2 separate regions of the Homo sapiens genome follow, and region 1 is reported to be linked to region 2. Evidence: microRNA targets listed by miRTarBase, many of them from high-throughput screens and not tested one by one. Region 2 holds a microRNA gene; the other region holds the end of a gene's coding sequence.

Evidence for each region. Region 2 holds the annotated microRNA hsa-miR-874-3p (CUGCCCUGGCCCGAGGGACCGA, at 2,055-2,076, shown strand). A microRNA usually pairs through its seed, bases 2 to 8, with sites in the 3' UTR of a target mRNA and lowers its output. Matches are read on the target gene's strand: a 7mer-m8 pairs with bases 2 to 8, a 7mer-A1 pairs with bases 2 to 7 and ends in A, and an 8mer does both.
Region 1: the mRNA of CBX2 is a reported target of hsa-miR-874-3p. Seed matches in the 3' UTR shown: 7mer-m8 at 2,198-2,204, 7mer-m8 at 1,376-1,382 and 8mer at 473-480.

Annotation. Positions count from the first base shown.
Region 1 is chr17:79,784,624-79,787,956 of GRCh38, reverse strand. CBX2 (chromobox 2) reads right to left here. Exons shown (of 5, transcript NM_005189.3): 5 at 1-3,333. The coding sequence ends at 2,915. Among named protein-coding and RNA genes, the nearest start is that of CBX2, 8.1 kb to the right of the region's middle.
Region 2 is chr5:137,646,256-137,649,657 of GRCh38, reverse strand. MIR874 (microRNA 874) reads left to right here and starts at 2,009; the gene lies at 2,009-2,086. All of the region lies in intron 8 of KLHL3 (kelch like family member 3), which reads left to right.

The DNA of each region.
Region 1 (3,333 bases), not on the chromosome of region 2:
TTTTTTAATTAAAAAACACAAATCAAGCCAGTGATTGGCTTTGGTTCAAAGCTTGATCCTCCCCTGAAGTCTCCCCTTAGTGAAAGCTCTCGGCCCAGAGCCCTCTCCAGCTAGGTCAGAATTTCGAGTGTAACCAAAACAAGGAACACTCTTTTTTGGTACAAAATATATACATATAAAAATATGCTAACATCTCTAAGGAAGACAGACTGGCCACTGCTTCCTATTCAATACAGGAGCAAACAAAACGCGGTTAACACACCATTTCACACACACACCATTGCCACAGTTCCTGCGGGACCTTCGGGAAAAAAGCAACAATGCATCGTCAGAAGTGCCAGATACCTAGCTACACAAACACAAACACACACACAAATAGCAGCAAATAAAAATAGAAAAAGTCTACTTTTATTTATTGGTAAACATAAGACAACCAAGTCTGAGCATCTGGTGCAGTTCCCAGTGACGGCACTTGCCCTGCACACGCTCTTGAAGCACCAGGAAAAACACACAACACAGTAAGAAGGCAAAGTGGCTGGGAGTAAGGTATCTGCAGATTCAAACTTTGGGATTGAAGTAGCTGGTAAACAGAAAGGCACCGAATCAGGGTCTGGAGAGACCCGGCTGCTGGGGAGGAATCTGGCCTGCCCAGGCAGACAGGGACAGACATCCTCATTTCTCCAACAGCTCCTGGAAGCCGAGTCACCCCAAGGGCTTGGAGAGCTGTTAGTCTGGCTTTGGAGCAGTGAAGGTAGCACAGTGCTCAGCAGGAAGGAGTCAAGACTTTGCTGTCGAGCACAGGGAGGCTGGTGCCTGAGGCTCAGCGTGCCAGGATCCACGCCTCCTCCCAGGCTGCGCAGTGAGCTGGAATCTCTCCCTCTCCTGTGGGAGCAGCTCTTCCCCTTACTGTCTGCTTCCAGCTCTGGCCTAGCTATCTGGGACTCTTAGCCCTTCAATTCGCCGAGGTGGGCACCATTCCTGCTGCAGCCAATATGGCCACTGTGGGCTGGCCCCCAGCTGGCATATGGATGGCCCTCAACGAAGCCATGGACATGGGTCCCTCCCCAAAGGCACACTGTTAAAAAGATCCATTTGGCTACACCAAGGCCACCTCTTCCTATTTGGCACGGTGAGGTACTGGGGGGTCTTGCAGTCTGGTACGCCTGCCCCCCGCAAACCAGAGCCCATTCTCAAAGTCCGGGCTGCTCCATGGAATCAGGAGTGCCTCCCTATAGTCAGGCACTGGAATGTAGCCCCATGCCTGCTGGCGGACTCCATCCAATCAGAGGAACAGAAAGCACCCACCCCACCCTCTTTTATTTTTGGCATCACAAAGACCTAGTGACCAGATTGCCTGCCGCTGCCACCTCTGGGCTGCCCTGCCTTGCTGCCCACGCTGCTCTCAGAACAGAAATCCTGATACTGGTCAGAAGCCATACAAGCTAGCTCCCAGACGTGACCACCTAGAGGCAGCTCACAGTCTTGAGTTAACAGGGGCCTCAGGGCCGAGGCTGACAGATCCAGCTTCCCGGGACCCTCTACCAGGCGGGCCCCCTAGACTTTGTCCAGCTTCCCCAATGGCACAGGTCTAGTTTTTCAGCTGGAAAGGAGCCAAGCAGGGAACCCCTAAAGGTGATGGGGATTGTCAGGGAAAATGATACTCCTCAAGGAATGCCTCATCCACTTGGGCAGGGCCCCACACAGGACGTAGGGAGTTGTTGGCTGGACCCACGGCCAACACTTGCAGCACAGGCAGAGCCGGCAGACGGGCCCATGGACACCCAAGTGCCAGCACTGCTGTCCTCCAGGTCTCCGGGGCAGTCTGTGGGCCATAATTAGAATGAAGCCAGTCCTTTACTAGCAGAAGGTAGGTCCTGGGAGTGAAGGGAGGGGCTTGCCTGCCAAGGGTCCTGCCCACTGGACTCCCCTGGACCTGAGCACCTCCACTTTGGGTTTTCCTTGGGACACACTGAACTCTGGGCTTTTTAGAAATGGAACATGCTTCAGTGGGCCTGGGGCAGGAGGTGGGTCTGGGTTTGGAAGGGGACTCAGGTCAGTTCTCACTGGGACACAGGCAGGAGGGAGGGTGGCAGCCATAGCCTGCCTCTCCTGCTCCGAGGCACGGAGGCTCTTCAGGTGGAACCCAGCTGTGGGACCACCCCCGCCCCACCCACGCTGGCTTGTGGGCTATGGATGCTGCCCTGAACTGGGGCTAGATGGCCATGAAGGCAGCCTTTTAGGGCTGCTGGGCTCGCTCTACTCCAGCTGCCTGCCACTGTCTTTTCACATTAAGGCCCCAGCCAGCCCCCACCTGTCAAGGGCAAGCTCCCCACTTCATCACTGCCGGCTCAGGCAATGCCAGCCAGGACCACCCCTGCCCACCCCATCTCCCAAAAGCTGTGGCCAGATGGAGGGAACACTAGTCCCACTGGCCATGCCTCCCCACAATACTCTCTGCCCACTCCAGGGCTGAAGGCAAGGTGGGCCAGAAGTCCCCTCCTGACACCTCAGCCCCTGCAAGACAGGGACCAAAGCTGTGATTCAGTCACGCAGGCCAGGGAGGAGCAGTTCAAACTCAGCAACAACGCAGCCATGAAGAAGCCCGCTCTGTTCAAGACAGTCACCTGGAGCCACAGGTGCCACCGGGTTTCCTGAGGCAAGAGGGGAGAGCAAAGAGGCCTGCAGAGGTAGGAACAAGGTGGAGACCAACAAGGCAGTGAGGCCCCCTGCCCTATGTCCTGGGACAGAGTGGGGTGCGGGAGAAGTCCCTTCCAAGCCTGCCCATCAAGGAGGCCACCCACTCCTCCTCCCCCGACCCAGACTCTTGAGGGGGCTTGGGCTGGGAGTCACTTAGCCAAGCGACACCATAGGCAGGGAAGGGGAGTAAGACCGCGCAGCTGGTGGCGCCGGGGCTTCAGTAATGCCTCAGGTTGAAGAAGCCCACGCTGGTGGGAGACTCCTTCACTGTGACGGTGATGAGGTTGGCAGTGACGTCGGTGACAAATACGTGCTCGATGAGGCTGCGGGTGGGCTTCCAGTCCTGGCTGGTCTGAACGGACACTGACGGGTTCTGTCCAGTGCTGGGCGGCGAGGCGGAGTCGGGGTCGGAGTCCGAGCTGCTACTCTCCTCACCTGCGCTCATCTCTGGCAGTGTGGCCGCCTTGCGGGCTTCTCCGGGGGCTGTGCGGCTCTCCTGCCCACTGGGGGTAGCACTGCCCTTGACACAGTCCCTCTTGCTGGCAGGGGTGGGTGGCGCCACTGCTCTGGAAGCCAGCTTCTCACTTTTGCTTGTGTCGGTGGGCATGGTGGCCCCGCTGGCCCCAATGAGGCCAC
Region 2 (3,402 bases):
AGTTATCTATTTCTGCATTACAAATTACCCTACGATGGCTTAACACAATAAACATCTATCATCTCACAGTTTCTGTGGGCAGGAATCCTGGAGTGGCTTAGCTGGGTCCTTTTGACCCAGGGTCTCTCATACAGTCAAGCTGTTGGTCGGGGTGCAGTTATTTCAGGCTTGTTTGGGGAGGATCTGATTCTAAGCTCACTCATGTGGTTGCTGGCAGGCCTGTTTCTTGCCATGTGGGCCTCTCCATAAGCTGCTTGAGTGTCCTCATGACATGCTGGCTTTCTTCCAGAGAGGGTGATTCTAGAGCAAGAAAATGAGAGCACACATCTAACACAGAAGCTGTAGTGTTTTTATAACCTAATGTCAAAATCCATGTCCCATCACTTCTGTCTTTTATTTGCTAGATACAAGTCACTAAGTCTAGCCCACACTTAAGGGGAGAGGTATTAAGTTCCACGTCTGAGTGTAGTAGTATCACAGAATTTGTGACCCATCTTTAAAGCACAATTAGTAAATGGCTGAGTTGAGGTTTAAGCCTAGGATGACTGGCCCGAGGCCCTGTGCTCTGAACTGTTTTATTATATTGCTTCCAAATGTCACAAAAGCATTATAGCCGAATGCTGTGTTGAAAGAAACCTGATTCCTGCCCTTTGGGGACTTTTAATTTTAAGAAGTCTCTCTGAGAAAGTAAGATAGACATATATGAACAACCAAATAAGTAGAGAAAGAAGAAAAATCAGGAGATAATTGGACTAGTTGGAGAAGCAGGCATAGGAATTCCAAGGGCAGGCTGGTTTGTGCTTTCATAAATTCAGTCCAGATAGGCTTTCTGGCAGAGCAAACTTTGAAAAACAACATGGTGGAGAGAGACCTGCACTATATTCAGTAATTCTCAGCAGTAACTCTGTTTGCCAGCCAAGTCCTTTCCCTGAGAGGAACAGGACTCTGCCTTGAGATAGCTGCAGAGGCTAATAAAGGTGTTTTTCCTGAGCCATATATGCACAGAGCATACTGACACATCCCAGCCGGAACAGCTAACAGCATCATCTTGGCTCCCACACATTCACCGCCCAGCACTTTTCCTGAGGCTGGGTTGCCATGGACAACCCGAGGCTGTCTCCCAGCCACTCAGAAGTCTCCTACGTTACCCTGTTCCACAGATGGCAGCAAGGAAATGAGGTTTCAGGAAGATGCAAATGAACCTTTTGGAAATGTACTGAACCTGGCACTTTTCACTGTCATTCCAGTTCAGTTGGCATCTCTATTCAGCTCTTTAAAAATGCTACTGAAACGCCATTTGGGCTGGAAGTGGGTGGCTTGCTCCTGAGTTGGGCTGTCCTGCTTTCAGTAGATGGTATTTGAAGAAGCTGTTGACAGGGTGGATGGGATGACCTCTCATTTGGCCCAGGCCCCTGGATGGGCACTGCCCCCTTCCACCTTGGTCCACACCCTGACAAGCACCCTGGGGTCCTGAAAAAGCCCCATAATCACCCCTAGAATTAGTGGTACTTACCCTCCCTCACAGGTTCATAGTATCCTTTTCTACCTTTCATTGGGAATCTGTTTTTTAGCACCTGCCTTAGAAGCTAATAATGACACTAGTGTTAATCAGATAACATTTAGTGTTTACTATTTATCAAGCATTGTGCTAAGTGCTTCATATCATTTAAGCCTCCTGACACCCATATGGGAAGCATCCTATTATCCTGATATTACAAGTTATGAAAATGAGGCTTAGCAAGGTTCAATGTCTTGCTCATAGCCACACAGCTATATAGTGACTGGGCTGATACTATATTTGGGCCCAGATGTGTCTGATTCCAAAGCCCATTTTTTCCACTCCTCTTCTCTCCCCCCGGGCCTTGCCCTCATATTACCTGGTTCTCAGACCCCCATTTTCTCTGCACCTTGCTATCAGTACTTGCCTAGAGCAACTGTTGCTCAGGAACCTGCTTGGACAAGTCTTCTGGCTCGACCTCGACATGCTCCATCGGATGAATTGTTGGTGTTAGCCCTGCGGCCCCACGCACCAGGGTAAGAGAGACTCTCGCTTCCTGCCCTGGCCCGAGGGACCGACTGGCTGGGCCTGCCTTCTGCCCAGCTCACCGGTCACAGAAGAGAGTTTGGACATGCATTCTACTCTTGCCCGATGAAAAAAGTGTGTAGAGCCCAGATTGTTCCTCTCACCTGAGTAGAAATTTGAATGACCTATGTAGTCCTGAGGCCAGGGCTAGGGTCTTGATCTACACGTAGGCTGGAAATCTCTATTCTCTTCATGGATTGTCCCTTTCCCTGGCTAGTCCCTGGCACCTAATGGCTCTCAGACACAGGGTGGTTGTGATTTCGGTGAGGAGGGACCAACATGCCTTCAATCCCACAGTCACGCTGGTAGAATCAGAATCATCTATGTAAACAAGAGAGCATTATATATTTATTTTTAAAAATGTTATGCTGGGAGTAAAATTTCCTTCCTAAGGAATCAGGTAGTCTTTTGCTTGGGCTCACTAATCTTCCTAAAATAAATGGCTATTTGACTTTTCAAAATGACAGTGTTTTCCTTGGGAGGTATCTAATAACCATCTCTGCTACAGTGGAGTTCAGCTCACTCATATTCTGTCAACCAGAGAACCTCCATTCACCAGAACTTCTGCAGCCTTCAACACAGTGACAGTTGAGACTTGGGATCAGAACTTTGAGGCACCCTGCCAAACTCCTAAGTATGCTGCAGTTCACGAGAGTGATTAAATTATGTTCAGTCTAGCATAATTGTTCACCTAGAGCCAGTTCTTTAGTTTGTGATTCCTACGTGACTGATAGTTCTTACTCAGGGTTACCTTGAAAGATAAATGTTAAAAATAGTGATCATTAAATAAGCTGATTTGATTGAGTAATTTCTAATAAAGGCATATTAATCTTAAGTATATTGGGGTTTAGGAGTGTTGGGGAAAGAAAGAAACATGCTTGTTGAACTCCCTGGGCCTGGGTGTTTCTGGAATATAAAATGAGGGCATATAGGAGAGAATGGTTCAAGTCTCTTCCTCTAACATCTTGTGGTCTTCTTAAGTAGCTAGAAGTTTGTGATTTCAGAGATGTGATACATGTAGACTGTGGGAAATACTCGTATTTGCCTAACTGCTTGCTAACATCAGGTATCCATGGAAACAACTATCCATTAGCACTCATGATAGGAAATTTATTCTTTTTACTCTGCATGATCAACACAGTAGTGGGTGTAGTGCTCCATGTATGAGTGCTTCTTGCAACACCTACCATAAAAATTGGATTTCTTTTGACCATACTGGGCTGTACTAATTTACTTTCCCACCAGCAGGGTATAAGAGTTCCTCTTTCTCCACATCCTTGCCAGCAGTTATCTTTTGTCTTTTCTGCAGTAGACCTTCT